2 separate regions of the Homo sapiens genome follow, and region 2 is linked to region 1. Evidence: fine-mapped expression QTL. Tissue or cell type: blood mononuclear cells. Region 1 holds a variant in brackets; the other region holds the start of a gene. All regions are shown on one strand. Distances are from middle to middle.

What was found. PIP is the estimated chance that this variant, and not a neighbour inherited with it, causes the effect.
Region 2: KCNA2 starts here. The variant in region 1 is fine-mapped to the expression of KCNA2 in blood mononuclear cells (TOPMed, PIP above 0.99).

Annotation. Positions count from the first base shown.
Region 1 is chr1:110,637,035-110,647,978 of GRCh38, forward strand. No RefSeq gene overlaps it. Among named protein-coding and RNA genes, the nearest start is that of KCNA3, 32 kb to the right of the region's middle. The variant G/C (reference allele first, on the strand shown) is at 4,389.
Region 2 is chr1:110,601,761-110,609,760 of GRCh38, forward strand. KCNA2 (potassium voltage-gated channel subfamily A member 2) reads right to left here and starts at 4,598. Exons shown (of 3, transcript NM_004974.4): 1 at 4,468-4,598; 2 at 3,631-3,962; 3 at 1-3,185. The coding sequence starts at 3,022. The coding sequence ends at 1,523.

The DNA of each region.
Region 1 (10,944 bases):
AAAAACCCCAAATTAGCCAGGCATGGTGGTCCATGCCTGTATTCCCAGCTTCTTGGGAGGCTGAGGTGGGAGGATTACCTGAGCCCAGGGAGGTCGAGACTGCAGTGAACCGTGATGGCACTTCTGCACTCCAGTGTGGGCAACACACTGTCTCAAAAATAAGTAAAATATTTTGTGTCTCAAAAATAAGTAAAATAAAATAAAAATAAAATAAAATTAGATTTGATCTGGAAAGAAATTTTGTAGAAAAGAATGTGTCACCTGGAGTAACCTACATCCAGAGTAACCTACATCCACTTGGGAGGCTGCAGTGTGCTCAGAGTGAGTTGGAGTTCCAGCCCTAGCTGATGGTGGGTGGGAGCATTCCCCTGCCCCTTCCTGCTCTGCTGCAGGGCTCCTTGGAGCTCACTGGCAGCATGTCCTCCCTTGGTAGCTGGATAGGCCCTTCAGTAGGCTCTGCAGGCTGAGCAGCCATGGGAGACAGCTAAACCCATACCCATACTTTGGCTCTGTGACAGAGTGGTCCAGCACTTCAGGACCTGCCTGGGTCCTGGGTCTGCCCCTGGGTGGGGCCTGGGTGGTATGGGTTCCCTTCGGGTGGTCTGGACTCAGCCTGATGAGACAGCCTTTGGTGGCTGGTTTCCATTGGCCCCTGAGAAGCCCTCTGCTGGAGCGGCATGGAGTGACTGAGAGAGTCAGTTCTGTGTCTTGAACTGTCATGTATTTTCTGGTTCTGGAAGCAGAATCTGCTTTATGTGCTTGAGATGCTGAGCCAAGGGCAGACACATCCTTATTCTCAGAGAGCCACTACAGGAGGGGAAGCAGGGGTCTACTGGCCGTGAGCACAGCAGTACATGCCGCATGTCTGCCAGACAGGCTGGGAAAAAGCTTGGGGGAGAGGGAGGGCTCACCAGGCCTGGAGGCTGCAGGAAGCCAGCCTCCTGGCCTCTGAGGATGGTGCTATGACACCAGTGCTGAGGACTGGTGGGTGCAGTGGGGTGAGTTGAATGAGCTGGGAATTCATGCTCTGAATCTATTTCCCCTGCTGCTTCTCCACTCCTCTATTCTCCCTCCCCTCTCCTCTTCGGCATTCACTGTAGCCTTGATACTTAAAATATCATCACAGCCAGTGAGCAGCTGTCAATGACCGGTCCCCTTACCTCAGCACTAGGTGGTGCTTGTATCTCCCTTCTGGCTGGCTGAGGAAGCTGGGCAGCAGGAGGCAGATGCTGGTTCAGAGCCCCTCTTCTTGCAGAATCATTAGGCAAAGCTCCCAGCAGCCTGACTTATGCAGATGTCAGAGCTCAGGCTTTGGTTCTTGTGCTTGAGCTAATTGGCATCTTTGGAGAAGCTTTTCAGCCTCTGGCCTGTGGGCACCTGTCCCTGAGGGGTGGCCCATCATTCAGCCTTGGTCTTTGCATTAGGCCTGTATAGCTACCGAGTTTTCACCCCAAGCCATGTCTGATGGCCTTTGGCTGGAATCTGGGATGGTAGAAAGCTGTTGAGACAGTTGAGTCTAAATTAAATATTAGATCTGGGTGGGTTTCACATATTTCATAGCATAACTTTGTTGGGATATTTATTTGCTCTTCTCCTGGTTCTCGCAATTTAATAATTGAGTAAAATCCGTTTTGACATTCAGCACTGATTTGCTTACATTCTGCTGAAGTGCACCTGCTCTGTGAGAGAGTGGGTGTGTGTCAGGAGGCTGGGAGAAGTGGGGGCAGACAACAGAAGCTTCAAATGAGAGACATGGCTTGGGCACTGACTTTATATGTGAAAATGTGATTCAGCCTTAAACTTGTGGGTCGCTTGCTAGATGACAAGCGCTAGATCAGACTCCAGTGGGAGAGTAAAATCATGGAAGATACCGTCTTCTTCCAGGAAGCTTGTGTTGGGGAAATAACGTCAAACACAACAACACCAGCTAAAGAGCAGAGTGCAAAGACAGGTGGCTCTCCCCTAATTCCACTGCACATACACTCACAATCAGATACACATATGTACACATTAGGTCAAACCTGTGAAGACCAAACCAGGCTCTGGGTTTTGGGATTGGGGTCATCAAGACCTACAAGTAAAATCTCCTCTTTTCAAATCTGCATTTCCTTATAGCAAAATGGTGGGAGCATAGGCCCTGGAGCCAGGGGCCTGCCTGAGAATCTGGTTCCCTCCATACTAGCTGTTTATGCTTAGACATGCCACTTAACCTGTCTGTGCTTCAGTTTCCTCATCTGTAAAATGGGAATTTCAGTGTCTATTTCACAAGTTTGCTGAGAGGTTTAAAGAAGTTAAAACATGTATGCGCTTCAAACAGTGTCTGGCACATGGGCAGTGCTCAGTAGCTATGACTATTGTTCCAAAGATCTGACCACTTTTCACTGCTTGCAGAGGTAAACGGTAGATGTTCAGACCATAAGGGAAAAACAGAGGCCCATTTTTAAGATGAGAAAGTGGGACAAGTAATAGAATATCTGCCTGGTTTCAGGAGAGGAGAGGGTCCTGGAAACTTGGTTCTTCTTACACAGCTGCTGAGCCCCAACTGAATTCAATTCATCAAAAGTATAATGAGGATCTGCTGTGCACAAGGTATGTAAGTGTGGTGGGGAAACAGGTGCTTCAAGTATGGAGCCCATCCTCTACCTCAGGAGGTGGAACAGACAGATAAAAACAAGGAGTAGAACATGATAAATATCACAAATACTCAGGAAGACCCTAAGTTGTAAGAAGAGAGGAAAGTCCTTTTGAGTGTTGGAGAAGAAGATATCAGGGACAGCATACATCAGAACAGAAAGGCAGAAAAGCTTGGCATATATTTGAGAACAGGACAGAGTCTATTTTGGTTGGAGGAAGCTTGGGTGAGAAAGGGTGTTGGGCTATCACTGGAAAGTGTGGGATGCAAAGGCAGGGTGAGTTGGCACTTCATCAACAGATAATGGAAGGCCACTGAAGGCTTTCTGAACAGGAGTAGAATCTTTTTATATTTTAAAACTAGTAGACTACAGTAAGTGAGGAAGATGGAGGGATGAAAGACGACAACTTTTGTTCATTTGTTTGTTTGTTTTGCCTGGGTGACTATCTGCATGATGGTATCTGCTAGAGATAGGGAAGTCAGAAGAAAGGGCCAAATCACTGGAGAAAGAAAATGCTTTACTTGGACAGTCTGGATGGGAAGTTCCAGTGAGTCATCCTGGTGGCAATGACTGGCAGATTGTTGGAAATGGAGGAGCTAAAGCGAGAGAGGCTAAGAATAGAGATATGGATTTGGGAGTTAGTGGCAAATAGAGTTAAACTATGGGAATGTATATGATGGCCTGAGAAGAAATTATAGGAGAAGTAAGAAGGACTAAGGGCTGAGCCTGGGAGACAGGACATGGAGGGGAAAGGCAGCTGAGAGGAGCCTTGAAGAAGACTGAAGAGGAATAATTGCTACTGAGGAGAAGCAAGGCAGTTCAGTGTGATGGATGCCAAAAGATGGAGAAGTCAAGGAGGTAAGACCCAAGGAAAGGCTACTTTTGGGCTGCTGGTGACCTGGAAGAGCCATCTGCATAGAGTTCTGGGATGGGCAGAGTGAGAGAGCATGGTAGAGCAAAGGGTTGTGGGAAGACCTGAGAGGCTTTGTAGAATTAAGGGAAGAGATGAGATACCAAGCGCATTCAGTCCTGCCTATCTTCCTAATGCATGAATTAAGATCAGAAAAGAGAACTAGAGAAAGAGGCTAGATGGCTGCGAGAAGCCAGAATATTAAGAAGTTGGTCCAGGTGAGGTGGCTCACGCCTGTAATCCCAGCACTTTGGGAAGCCGAGGCGGGCAGATCACAAACTCACGAGTTGGAGACCAGCCTGGCTAACATGGTGAAACTCTGTCTCTACTAAAAATACAAAAATTAGCTGGACGTGGTGGCGGGCTCCTGTAATCCCAGCTACTCGTGAGGCTGAGGCAGGAGAATCATTTGAACCTGGGAGGTGGAGGTTGGAGTGTGCCAAGATGGTGCCATTGCATTCCAGCCTGGGTGACAGGGCGAGATACTGTCTCAAAAAAAAAAAAAAAAAAAAAAAGAAAGAAAGAAAAAAGAAAAAAAGAAATTGGTATTAGTAGCAGAAATGCGGAGTGTGAGAGGGTGTATATAAATGGATCAGTAAGAAAACAAAGATTGAGACTGTTTATAAAATAGAATTGCCTGATTATGAACCAAATATGAGTCAGTTAAAATATGTCAATATAAAACATTTATTCTTAAGGAAAACAATTTAGACAATATCAAATATATTTAAAATGTTGGGTAGGCAATGGTTATGAAGGAGGAGAAGCACGCACTTCTCCAACTGCACCATCACTAGCCACACGACTTCCTGTGAGTTATGACCCCTCTGCTTCACATTCTCATC[G/C]TATAATGGGGATAGTAACACTTTTCAAGGTTTTTGCATTGTTGTAAGGACTGAGTGAGCTATTGAGGAATCTGAATGCAAAGGAGTTATTATCCCAGTGCCTTGTGCATTGTGAGTAGGTGCTGAGTAAGTATTAACTATCATCACTATTAGCTTTTCTCGGCTGTCGGTAGTGCAGTCTTGGAGGGAACAGTTTGGCATTCTGGGCCCTGAGATTTAGCTGGATGGATGCTCAAATACTTGCATTGAGTGGATAAATGCAACTGAAGTAGAAGTGAAAGATCGTGTGTGACTAAACAAAAGAGAAAAGGGAAGAGAAAGGAGAGGTTTAGTGCATTTGTGAGTGTGTGTGTGTGTGTGTGTGTGTGTGTGTGTGTGTGTAGGGAGGGAAGATGGTAATAATGCTAGGAGAAAGGCAGCATTTCATGACTGGCAGAAATGGGTTCCATGGTACCACTGCATGGTCGACTTAAATACAGGAAACCCTGCAACTTGTGGTTTCACAATTCTCAGTTGTGAACATTGGTGCTCTTTATGAAACCCTTCAGTCAAAACTGCAAATATACAGTCCAGAACCACAGATTTCTTTAATTTTGACTTTGTAGCTAAGTCATCCTAATCAGGGACTCTCTATCCTACCCACACCCAAACTCAGTAAACACAAAGAATACTGAGAATATCAGACCAAAATATTTGGTGTACAGTTCGGATTCATGTTCTGTCTTCTCCAAGTCTCAATTTTCTTCTCTGTGATGATCGCCTAATGTCTACCTTTTTGAATGTCTATGGAGATGTATTTAAGTACTTGGTAACCTGGAATGTGCTAAATAGAGGTTATCTTTTTTTTTTTTGAGATGGAGTCTCGCTCTGTCACCCAGGCTGGAGTGCAATGGCACTATGTTGGCTCACTGCAACCTCTGCCTCCCGGGTTCAAGTGATTCTCCTGCCTCAGCCTCCCAAGTAGCTGGGATTATAGGCACCCACCATCATGCCTGGCTAATTTTTGTATTTTTGTAGAGATGGAATTTCACCATGACCAAGCTGGTCTTAAACTCCTGACCTCAGGTGATTCACTTGCCTTGGCCTCCCAAAGTGCTGGGATTACAGGTGTGAGCCATGGTGCCCGGCCAGAGGTTATCTTTTTATACTAGTTTTCTTTAATATTTTATTTTGGATTTGTTCTATGTGAATTCACCTGAAGGTGATTTGAACCTGTTTACATTGTAATCTGTAACACATTTTGGGCAATAAACTTCATATGCTGACTACTTAGCTCCTTTCATTCATTTTAAATTTACTTCCCAAGTGTTCAGCTTCAGGGAATGCTCTTCAGGAACAACGTCCCTGGATCTGGTGATCAAGTGGATCACCAGAACCTCACCCAGAACCTCACCCAGAACCTTTGATCTCATTTTTCATTTTCTCCCAGTCTGAGGAGGCCCTGACTCTGCCCAGTGAAGCTGCTCTCTCTCTGGCAATGCCCATCCCATCAGCCATGATGTGAGCGTTCTTGAGCTCTGCCCTGTGCATGAGGTTTGTCCAGCTGGGGGAGGGAACTAGAGTCAACACTGTTTCCCAGATGTAGGCAATATGGTTGCTGCTCTGGCACGGTAATCTGTAGGTTCTATGGGACATTTTTAAATCCCAGCCTGCTTTCTCTTTAACTAGCTTCTCTTCCTATCCCTTTAAAGCTTTAAAAATTACCCCAAATGTCTGCGAGTAGCCTCCACACAATCCAATATATTTGATGCATTACAAAGTCCTTAAACATGACTCCTGGATGATCTTTTCTTTATCTACCCTCCATTAACAGAAATGACATAGAACTGCTTATGTGTATTTACATGGATCTCTCTCACCTCCTCCCTCACCTCCCACCCCACCTCACCCCCCACCCCCAAATACTGAAGTGTTAATGGGGATAGTGCATTGTTTAAGCTGTCACAATGTGTGATCAAGACAGACTGAAAGTCCTCTAAACCTTCAATAGTAATTCCATTCTCCAGGAGAGATGGAAAATTCTTGCATGCAGGAGATATTAGTTGCTCTGTTTCAGTCTGAATTGTGCACAGAGTTTCCTGGGCTACTGTAAGGTGGAGTAATCCCAGATTGCCGGGGCTGTTCCATGCATCCCATGGGATAATGTGTAATGATCAGTAACCTGTAAAGTGCTGAATTAAGGTTATCCTTTTATCCTAGTTTCCTTTAATAATATATTTTGAATTTGTAGCATGTGAATTAATCTAATGTCTTGTAAATGGGTGGATTTCTGGTGTGTCCTGATCTTTCTCGATCTGCCTGGAGTCAATCAACATTCAGGAGTGAGGAGTGGGATGAAGAATGGAGATTCTAGAACCAATATCTAAAAATATGTATGGAGGTGGGGGCAGGGAGGGAGTTCTTGGGAGGCTACCAGGAGGATTCTTGCTTCCATATTCATTTATCCATAAATCATTTGTTGGGGGCTGTGTTGTTTGGTGGCCTCTGTGGCTGAGCCATGAGGTAAAGCTGATGACAAAGATTTCACTCTGCCAGTCTTCTTGCTCTCTGAAGAAAGGCATCCCCTCTTCCCTTGGGAGGCCCACCCTCTGCCTCTTAGCTCAGCACTCAGTTTGAGACTAGGCTGTCTGAGCTGTCTCATTCCGTTTGTGATCATGTGCCATTCCGACTTCCTCTATTTCCTCTTCTTTATTTACTATTCTGTAGTCTTCCCCACGCTTTCAAAACTGAAGGAATGGTCGAGTTGCCATGGCAACCCTCTGCCCCCACCTCTTTTTCCTTTCTCAACAATTTTTCTACATTTTAATAAAATTACTATTTATAGTGCACAAAGCTGCATTCCCCTCCACTGCAGCTCTGCAAGGGAGGTTTTCTGTCTGACCAGAATACTAATAACTAAAACATGGCTTTCCAGTGAGGAAGTGAGGAAGCCCTCCAGAGCAATCACTTTGGGAGACATATGTGTTCTTTAGGATATTGTTTAAGATGTATGAAGGGCTTGGCCTGCATATATGAAGAACCTCAGTTGACAGGGCTGAAACCCCATCCTTGTAAAATATACCATATAAATGTTGAATATGGCATTCCGGGCACTTTGGGAGGCTGAGGCGGGTGGATCACTTGAGGTCAGGAGTCCAAGACCAGCCTGGGCAACATGGTGAAACCCCATCTCTACTAAAAATACAAAAAAATTTAGCTGGGCGCAGTGGCGTGTCCCTGTAATCCCAGCTACTTGGGAGGCTGAGGCAGGAGAATTGCTTGAGCCTGGGAGGCGGAGAGTACAGTGAGTTGAGATTGCTCCATTGCACTCCAGCCTGGGTGATAGAGTAAGAGCCTGGGTGACAGAGCAAGATTCTGTCTCAAAAACAAAAACAAACATAGAACTGATCTTTTAGGGTTGTTTTAAGGATCCAATAAATTAATATAGACAAGGACTTAAAAGAGTGTCTGTCGTCATTTGTTATAGGCATTTGAATTATTATTTTAGTAGCTTATTAACATCCATGAAGACTATTCCAAATGTGAGGTTTTACCAAGGTTTTATAGCTGTTGAGGGATAGGCCCGGTGGAGGAGGTTAGGAGGGGTTATTTTGTATGGAATGAAACATTTAGACTACATTGAAGAGTAGAATGAAGGAGTAGCTTTTAAATTCTTAGTGTTCAATAATGAAAATATTCATTCTTTATCATGTTTTGGGACTTTCTAAAAACAAATTTTATATAGGAGCAAGGCAGATTATTTTAGCTTAATTTGAACTTACATTGTTTATTCATTCAAAGGGCTCACAGGTGGAAAATCTCTGAGTGAGGTTACACAGTAATGATCTGGTAGTAGTGCTACTTAAACTTTCATGTGCATATAAATCACCTGGGAAGTTTATTACACTTCAGATTCTAATTCAGTGAGTTGGGGGTGGAGCCTGAGATTCTACATTTCTATCAAGCTCTTAGATGCTGCTGCTGCTGCTGGTCCCTGAGGACCATTGAGTAGCAAGGTTTAAGGTTTTTGGGGCCAGCTCTTCCTAAAGACACTTTTTAAACAAAGGTGTGGGTTGAGTGGAAGGGGCTCTCCAATTTCTTAGTTATTACCCAATTGGAATTACCCAATACTAATAGAACTGGGCCCTCATGAGAGAATGAGGTTAAGAATCACCAGTGGAAGCCAGAAGACTTCTTTTTTCTGAGATTTTAACAAGAGAAGTCAGGAAAGGCTATATACTTTTTTTATTTTTATTTTTATTATTTTGGCCAGAAAGCTCAGAGGTGCCTGACTGCATTGTATTCAGGCTCTACTCTTGCTTTATAAGTCAAATGTGATTACTCACTTAATTTTGTTCTTGAAACATTTTTAGAACCCAGTAAAACTCATCATTTTCCTGAATGAGAGTTAAGGCTTTTTTTTTTGGGTGGTGATTTATTCAGAATATTTTGAAGACATGATTGTGGGACTAAGATCCAAGTGAAACTGAGCCAAAAGAAGACGTAATTATTAAAACATTAACTTGAAATTTTAACTCCTGTTTGAAAGCATTGCTTCCCTCTCTAAATGTCTGTCAATATCTTATTTAAGTCTTTTTTTTTAAACAAAGCAAAACAAAACCTTTGACATGTTTTTAAGAACTAACAATAATGGTGATATACAACAGCTGCAGTCTCACTTCCGAATGGAGGAATTAAAGGCTCATGTTAGAAGATGAGAGGTTTAGCTACTTTATAGGCTTAATCAGCCAGTGACTCACAATTACGAGTCATGTGATTTAAAAATCTCAGTGACTGTGAGCTTCTCTTTGGAGGACTGGGCAAACTGTGAAGAAATATGTGAAATTAGAGAAAGAAATGTGAAGTAGACTTCCTCTTTAAATTCTGGATTAGCCATGACTCAAAGAGCATGGTAGGACATCTGTATATGCTCATTTTATTAGAAAGGCCATCACAATTGGATTTAGACTTCTATTCGTGTAATCCATCTTCTTTTTGCAGGCAGGATTATCTCTAGGCTAGTACTGAAAAATTGTCACTTCTATTAGATTATTAAGCAAGGTCTGTATCATCTCTCAAAAAGACCCACAGATCAAGATATGTTGACATCAGTGGAGGGGGAATTGCCCTTTTAGTGGCACCTTCAGCCTTTGCAGATGCCAATTCAATCAACCAGTAACAACTCAGATGGGAGATGGGAGAGTGTGGCTAAGATGGACAAGAATACACTTTCAAAATGCAAAGCTTTTCTGCAGCATTAGGGGTCATGGAGATGTTAAAAGACTTTTCAAATAGCAACTACACAATAGGATTCCAGATTAAAGGCTCCTCAGTTGACAGATAACCAGTGGGAAAAGATGAAATGAGAATTATCTGAGAATTGCTATCATAACCTATCCTTAAAACAGAAGAGCTTTGTTCCTTTTAAGCTCATGGGAGCATGTTATAGTAGCAGCCTTATAATTTGTCACTGAATAAATCACCAACACCAAGTTACATTAATTATATCTTACTCTTTAGCTCCCTAAATTTCTCCTTAATAGACCTAAAGGAATTATGATGAATAAGGATTGAGACCATTTGCAACCTTTGGAGTTAGTGGTTTGCTTTCCAATAATTGACATTTTTATCTATTAATGCAGTTAGGAAAATTCATGTTTTCAGTTTTGGTAAGAATTTTGCCTAGAATTATCAGCAATGAAAATCTTACTCTAAGTTAGTCAATTGTTCTTGATGATTATAATGATCTAAAGTTTGATGCCCACAGCCTTGTGTATGTTAATTTCCAGTAGATTCCGTAAGAATGAGAGAATGTGTGTATGTTTTTGAACTGGAAGACATTCTGACCGGGATCTACAGAGATATAAATGGGCAAATCCAGTACAGTTTAAACACAGGAGTTCTTATCTGAGTGGAATACTTCAGAGGGTTGGAGATTGAAGTAGCCCTCTGATGAAGTCTGGAAACTACTGGAAATGTTTAAATACTGTGGTTTAAAATTACACTTGAGATAAAATCTGATTTCCTGTTTCTAAGTCAAAAAGCTTACAATAAGGACCTTGAAGTTTCCTGGAATAATAAACAACACTTCTAAAACGGCAACTGGATGAGGTAAGTGTGGTTGACTAGAAAGTACAGATTAATTTTCTCAACACTACTCATGTTTCAAAATTAAGAGGGAAAATTTCCAAGAGAGAGACATATTTGAGGTCATGTTGAACCCAAAATAGTTTTAAGTGCTGCAATAGTTTGAAACGTTTTTAAGGGTTTTCCACTGCTGAGACAATTAGCTAGTTTCCTCAGACTGCATTTGTTTTACCAATCTAGTGTTGAGAGCCTCTTAACAGTGGTATATCAATGTGCAACATTTCTTGCAACTTATAAAAGATAAGTAGACCGGCACCGGCTACAAGGAGCTAGAAACCCTTCCCCATCTCATTGGCCTCGCTTAGTCCTTCCTACTTAGTCATCAAGCCTAAATCCCTCTCTTATTTCCTGAAGGCCCCTGAGCTAAGTTAATTTTATCTTCCTTCTTTCTCATAGTTCCCTGAGCCTACCTGGTATAGAACTTGTCACT
Region 2 (8,000 bases), 37 kb before region 1:
TGAACTCCAGAAAATGAATATATATATATATATATGTGTGTGTGTGTGTGTGTGTGTGTGTGTGTGTGTATACATATACACACATATGTATGTATATATATACACCCTAGTGCACATAGTCAAACACATGCATAAATTGCCCTTTGTCAAAAATATTGCATAAGCTTGTACAATGTTCAAATGCAATTTCTTTTCTATCACTAGCTAGGTAGAGGAACGCGTGAAAGAGAGATACTCGATATATATTTATATACACTGGATCCACAGACCTGCCTGTCATCAGGACCAGATGCCCTGGTCCACTGTACAGTCATGCCCGCGACTAGGTTAATTCCTAAGGTGCAGTCATGTGAGGTGTTCAGATGCTGCCTTCCCCGCTTACTCTTCTGGCTTTGCAGAGGTCTGCGTTCCTGTTTAGAAGAACAGGGATAGGTAGGCTGGGGGGCCAGAAGTTTTAGTTCCATTCCAAATAGTCTATTTTTTTTCCCCTGATGGAGGGATTTTTGCCTTCTGATGGGAAAAAAACCCCTAGTTCAAGACCATTCCAAGCCTATTAATACTCTAAATATTAACACTGTGTAGGCTACTAGGAAAATAGGTTATCTCCTGTGTTTTAAATATTGAGATTCATGCAACAAACACCCATGCAGCTCTATTGCATCACTGGTAAATTTCACTGCAGTGTCAGTGTAGCTGGGCCACATCAGTGGGAAAGCAGATGTCTGCAAACTCCAGTAAGAAACCAGACATGTTTTTGTGACCCTGGAGCCTGCAAAAATGGTGAAATCAGAGGCTTAGAGGTCTGTTGGTTTGTTAGCTTCTCCCCATAGGCCTAAGGGAACAAATGTGAAACTTGACAACTCATATTCGGTCATACTAACTGTCCCTCCCCCGGGCTTCCCTCACATCGACACTGCAGAGAAAAAGCAGAATGCAGCATTTTCCGTTATGAAACACAAGCCTCCAGAGCATCTACTTGGCAACTGCAATTCACAAACTCCAGCCTGTGACACAGAAAGTAATTCCAACACACAGGACTGTGTGTTCTTTTCAATGCAAAAATGAGTATGACCTTTTGAACAAACACCAGCTATTTAAAGCTAAGCCATGATTGTGTTCCTCTGTGAAAGGGCAGGTGGGCTCAAATAAGGTGGTGGGATGGTGGGGAGGGGAGTGCATCTCTTGGATGTTGTGTGCATTTCATTAGGAAGGAATGATGGCACTGATATGGTGCACTGTGTATGGGATATGAGGTGGCCTCAACGTGTCTATCTGAAATCCTAGCTTGATAGGTGACTCCCGTCTTTGGAAGTTCATAAGCCGGTGATGAGGATGTGCATGAAAGCCATGATAGATATTCTGTGTTCTAAATCAAAAGTCAAAAGATCAAAAGTCACTTGCACAACTATTGCTTTCCATGCAGAACCAGATACACACTGTAGAACACACTGACTACAATGCAGGCTATTATGCAACATCTGCATTAGTTCCATTGAGCTGTGAGTACGGTAATAGGTTTCAATCAGACATCAGTTAACATTTTGGTAATATTCACATAGTTTGTGTTAGCCAAGGTACAGTTGGCTGTTTTCAAGTTTTCCTCTCTAAAGTCCTCATTACTGTTATTTACACCCTCCTGGATCTCCATGTAATCAGACTTACTAATGGTAGAGGCACTTCTACTTTTCTTTAGGTCAGGGGAGGATGGGATCTTTGGACAGCTTGTCACTTGCAAGTATTGGGCCTGTTCCTCTCCCTCTGTCTCCCGGTGGTAGAAGTAGTTGAAATTGGACACAATGACAGGGACCGGTAAGGCAATAGTTAACACACCTGCAATCGCACATAGGGAACCCACTATCTTTCCCCCAATGGTAGTCGGAACCATGTCTCCATAGCCTACAGTTGTCATGGAGACGACTGCCCACCAGAAGGCATCTGGGATGCTGGGGAACTGGGACTCTCGCTCATCGGCCTCTGCAAAATACACAGCACTAGAGAAAAGGATGACCCCTATGAAGAGAAAGAATATCAGGAGGCCCAATTCTCTCATGCTGGCTTTGAGGGTCTGACCTAGAATCTGGAGACCTTTGGAGTGTCTGGACAACTTGAAAATCCTAAAGACTCTTACCAACCGGATGACACGGAGGATGGCCAGTGACATGGCCTGCTGGCCTTGCTGAGCGTCCTCTGGCTTCTCAGCCAACTCTGTCCCCAGGGTGATGAAGTAGGGGATGATGGCCACAATGTCAATGATGTTCATGATGTTGGTGAAGAAGCCGGCTTTGCTGGGACAGGCAAAGAACCTCACCAAGAATTCAAAGGAGAACCAGATGATGCAGAGTGTCTCTACAATGAAGAAAGGGTCTGTGAAGGAAGTGGACTGCTGGTACCCGATGGTGCTGTTGGAATAGGTGTGGAAGGTCACCCCACTACCATGCATGTCTTCATTCTCATCCCGGAAGATGGGCAATGTTTCCAGACAGAAGCTGACAATTGAGATCAGAATCACCATGACAGACACAATAGCTATAATCCTGGCAGGCCCTGAGCTCTCTGGGTATTCAAAGAGAAGCCACACTTGTCTCTGAAACTCATTTTCAGGCAGAGGACGCTCTTCCTCCTTGATGTAGCCTTCATCTTCCCGAAACATCTCCATCGCTTCTTCTCCCAGCTCATAAAACCGAATTTCTTCAGAGAATATATCTAAGGGCACATTCACAGGTCGCCTCAATCGGCCCCCTGACTGGTAGTAGTACAAAATGGCATCAAAGCTAGGGCGGTTCCGATCGAAAAAGTACTCATTTCGGAGGGGGTCAAAGTACCTCATTCGTTTCTTTGGGTCCCCTAAGAGGGTCTCTGGAAACTGGGCTAAGGTCTTTAGCTGGGTCTCAAACCGCAGCCCTGAGATGTTGATCACCACCCTCTCACAGCACTCGTGGTCTGCCTCTGGGTCATAGGTGTCCTGTGGGTGCCCAGGGAGGGCAGCAGCCTCGTCTGCTGGGTCTCCGGTGGCCACTGTCATAATTGGGACTGAGAGAAGCACCTCACGCTATGCCTTTCAGCTGCCTGGTGGCAGGGAGCTCAGGGTGCTGCTACTGGCCCCAGGAAGCACAGGAGCATTGGCCTGGTCTCCTGCAGGAGAGCCCCGAGAGCTCTCTGAGAGCTGGAGAGACAGCCTCGCTTGGCTGAAAGACAGAGGCAGTTATTGACATGAGGCTACTCAGCATTGGCAGCCTGACCTGGGTTGCCACTTTTTGTCTCCCATCTCTCAGCCAAGAGTTCAGACACATGATCACCACCACCACAACGACAAAGCAAAATTTACTTTCACCTTGTAACTTGTCTGGGGATCAGGGGGAGCAGGTAGCAATCTCTCCAGGAACCTCTGGAATGCCCTGCATTGGGGGAAGGTGGCTGGTACAGGCCCGCTTGTAGCACACAGGCTTCATGGAGCATAACCCCATGCTAATAGGTTAAAAGTGGACCCTCTCCCAGGTGCTGCACTAATGTCTCAGATACTCATACCCAGGGAGGTATTCATGGTTGGGGAGCTTGGGCCTGGGTCTTTCTCATTGGCCTCCACCCCAGTGATTCTACACAAGGCTGTTATTAAATGATAGATTGATTTACCTGACCAGAGACGTGAAGCTCTCTTCCTTGCAGAGCTGATCAGATGCTGCAGGAATCTGAGATGCACCAACAGGCAGCCCAACTCCTCATCACGTCTTCTCACTCGAGCTAGAAATAATGGTGAGTCATTCTGGGCAGAAGGGCAGACTCTGGGTCCTGGAGGTGAGCTCTAGGATTGGGCTGGGCTGGAGGGGCGGTGAGGTGCCTGGCCAGGGGCATGCGGGACTTGAAGACAGCCGAGCATGGGCCTGGAGCCTTTTGAAGGAAGGAGGCAAGATGCAAAGCTCAGCAAAAGCTGGAGTCCTGGCTGTCCTCAGGAGGTGTGACGTTGCCTGGAAAAAAACAGCAGCAAGGTGGAACCAGGGCATTTGAACCAGCTGGTGCCAAGATTTAGGAGGGTCTGGCAGCTTCCCTCATGGGAGGTAACAGGCCCCCATGCCCATCCTCTATTCTGATGCCAGGCCTGAGGACTATCCCTCAGCCTCCTTGCCTCTTCTGGGCAGGCTTCCCATCAGCTTGAAGCATTTTCTCCCAGGGAGCAAGACTCAGGCTTGGCTGGGCCTGCCTTCTCCAGGGGCCTCCCTGGGTTGATCCAGGTTGCTAGTCCCCAGCTGCTCTCAGGAAGGACTCTGGAAGAAGCACTCCTACCCCCACATGTCAGGACACAGCAGCTCCCAAGAGGAGGGCTTAGCTCACTGCAGCCTGTCTACAAGCTCTGACCTCAGCCAGTCCTGGAAAAGAAGCACCCCACCCCCCAGCACACACACTCCTTCAGAGCGCATCTAGGGAGACCCCACACAACAAAGTCTGCACTGTACGAAAACTGGATGAACTTACTCTCCCTCCGGGATCCCTGGGCCGCAGGCCTCCCTCTGAGCCGGGTGGCATTTGAGCTGGGCAGGCGCTCGACCACTGATTTCTCCCCCAAGAGAAAATCCCTCACATCTCCTCGGCAGGGAGCACAGAATAAACGCTCCGCCTGCCTAGCTGCGAGGCGGCTTGGCAGCAGCGAGAGGGGGAGCCTGGAGGAAGCCGGCTTCCGGACTGGCCCCCTGCCGACCCAATCCCGCCGGCCCCAGGGCGGGGAGGGGTCTGGGCCCTCTCCCCATCGCCCCGGGCTCCGGCCGGGATTCCGTTCGGCGCACTCAGCGCTCGCCTCCGCGCAGAGGACCAGACCCTCCCGCTGGCCGCGGCCGCTAGCGCCACCTTAACCCCCTCCTGCCCGCGCGGTCGGCTCCTGCTGCGGGCCCAAGCGCAGTTCAGCTCTTAAGCCCCCGGCGTCCAGCCGAGGGACCGCCGAGGCTCAGTGTCCAACCCAAAATCCCGGAACCTGATCTCTGGGGGTGGGGAGTAGCCTGCGCCAGGCTGCCGCCCCAGATCTCAGCTTCCTTTTAAGCGCGGGGGCTCGGCGGCAGCCCACGGCCCCAGCGAAGGGGAAAGCCCTCTCTGCAGCAAAGCCGTTTGTTATTCTGTGCCGAAGAGGCGAATGCAGCCCGGCCGTCCCAAGTGGTTCAGGTCCTACCAACCCGCGCTATTTACCAGACATGGTTATGCTGCCAGCTGCACTTCCCACCACCCACCAGCTCCTCTCCGTGCCCTCCGCCCCGCGCCACGCAAACCCCAGAGGGTCCCGAGCCCATTCTGTGCACTCTTCTTGAGCAGGGTGCAAGTTCCCCTTGATCTCCCCGGTCTGGGACCTGCCGAGCAGACGGCAGTGGTCGGCAAGGGCTTGCCGCCGCGGACTCAGCCCAAGCCTGCTGCGCTGCAGGCTGCGCCGCCGGGTGCCCCGCAGCCCCTCTGGGCGCCGCAGCCGGGCAGGGAAGGCAGCACGCGCCGCGCAACGCCCCGACACGGATTTACCCTTCCGGATGGGCACCGGGGCCTCCATGTTCCTAGGTTACGGCCAGCGCCGGCAGAACCCCGGCAGCGGGCGGCGGCGGGGTGCGGGCGGCCAGCCGGGAGCCGGCTCTGCAGTCCCGCGGGCGGCGCGTACGGAGCTCCCGGCCGCCGCCCGCAGCCGCACCGCGCCACGCAGCGCCGCACCTGGCTCGACGGCGAACTCGAATTAAAGGGGCCGGCGGGGGCCGGGGCCGGGGCCGGGGCGACAAGCTGCCCTCCGCCGCCACCGAGCTCGTCACCTCGTTGGGCCCCCGGGCCTCAGCCCCCGCCCCGCGAGGAAAACATTCTTTGGCAGAGCCCGACTTACTAACCAGAACCTCCAGGAGAGCTCAGCTGGGTGCTGCCGGGCCGGGGAGATGGGGGAGGGCAGAAGTTGAGGGGCACTGGTGAGAGGCTCCTGCCAACGTAATGAAGTAGGCAAGGAGGAGATAATCAATAGCAGCTACCCCAGGCCCACAGCGGGATCCAGCCCCGGGAGAGACGTGTTGCTATTATTGTGGTGCCTCCAGACAGGATCTGCAGACCCCTTTCTTGCCCTTTCTCCCGCCAGCGCGACCCCTTCTCCAGATCGGCTTCCCACCTCCCTGTTACCCAGCAAAGATTTGGCTTCGCAGGGAAATGCAGCAGGTGCGGTCCGCAGTGTGGCAGAAACTCTTCTGCTGTGTTCGCCCCCACCGAGAGGAGCCGCAGGAACAGGCAGCACTGCAGGGCTGGCCCTCTCCACTCCCCGACTCCCTCCCCCAGGGCCCGGGCAGGGAAGGCTGGGGGACACGCCGCTGCCCTTGGGAATGGTCAGCTACTCACAAAACGGGCCCTCTGGCAGAACTTGCAAAGCCAGGTGGCCCACAGGGCTCTGAACTTAGGAGTGCAGCTTACAGCACCCTAGGTGGGCAGACGAGGATGCCCTTTGCTTTCGGGAAATGTGTGTGGGAGGCACAGCCTACTTTCTGCCTAGATAGGGCATCCGAGAAGGTCCAGGGTGCTTTTGGGAGGCAGACGACAGCCTCAAGCCCCTGCTAGTTCTGTTCTCCAGGTCCCTGTCAGGGTCACCTAGACAGGTGTGCCAAACAGTGGTGGTTCCTTGAGATAAGACTGCGGTAGACACGGAGCTCTGGATTCAGATGGGCTCTAGCACCAGGAAGTCCCCACTGGGCCCTCCCCCCTACCCTCCGGCCGGGAAACCCTCCTCTCTATGCGTGTACCTCGTGGGGAGAGCCCTGAAAGCCCATGAAGCGGGACTCCGGATTCTGGCGTTTCATCGTGGTAGTCTGTGAGGTGTGGTTGAAGACTGGGAGCCTGCCTAGAGCTGCAGGGGGTGGTCTGGGAGGGCAGTGACCTCCGTGGGCCCAAAGGATGACAGATGACTATAGAGAAGGGCTGGTATGGTTTAGAGCACCTTGAACCTGGCCTGTTAGTGTCCCAGTCAGTGAACGGCTTGGGTGTTTTGGAGGCAGTCAGATGGAAACGTAACTCCCTAACAGTTACTAGATAAGTTATTTCACTTCTCTGGGCACCAGTGCCCTCCTCTGAAAAATCAGGATGCCCCTAAGGGTGTGGTGAGGTTTTAATTGTTGAATGAGTTTAGCATCCAGCAGACACTGAATGCATGATGATTTCGCTGCTCTGCTTCCTTGTGAAACTCTCCTCATAGCTCTTAGCTTCCAGCTTAGCTCTGGGGTGTTTCTCTAGGCTCCCAATCACCAGGTCCTTGTTGCCCCATTCCCTCTGCTTCCCAGATTGCCCCGCCCTTTACTTTCCTTGAGATCTCACCATTCCCACCCCTCTACCAAATTGACCTCCAGTTCCCTTCCCTATATACTCCTTCTGAAAGCCTCCCCTGACCAGCACCAAGGGGCTCTGTTTCTCCTATTTGGCACACTGGGTTCTCGTGTCATTTAAAGTCAGATAATCCTGTGTGGCCAAAGTCAGATACTCTATCCATCTGATCATATGTATACATTTCCTTTGCCTTCCTTCTTGAAAACAGAAGCTGTGGACAGAGAAAAGCCCTTGAAGGAAAATCAATCGTCATAATTGGTGACATGGGCTTACCATGTGTCAGACCCTGTGCTAAGCACTTCTTACCCAGGGCAACATTTAATTCTCACAGCCCTAGAAGTCAATGTATACATTAGTACCATTTCATTGGAAAGGAAATGGAGGCAGTGAGAGGTGAAATCACCTGCCTGAGGTTAATAAATGGTGACTCTAGGACTGGAATTAGGTCTTTGTGATTCTAGGACATGTGCCCTTAGCCCCCACACCACACTGTGCAGGTGGAATGAGCAGCTCTTGAATTTCATTTCCCTCTTTGAGATCTTCCTCTGACCTCTGCTTCTATTTTGTGACTTGGCCTCAGGGGTATGTTGTCCTGTCTCTATCCTTTAAACTTAAATGTGAACAATGACAAAAAAAGAAATTAACTAAAGAAGGGGGAAAAAAAAGAACCATCATAACAGTTGTTTAGGCAC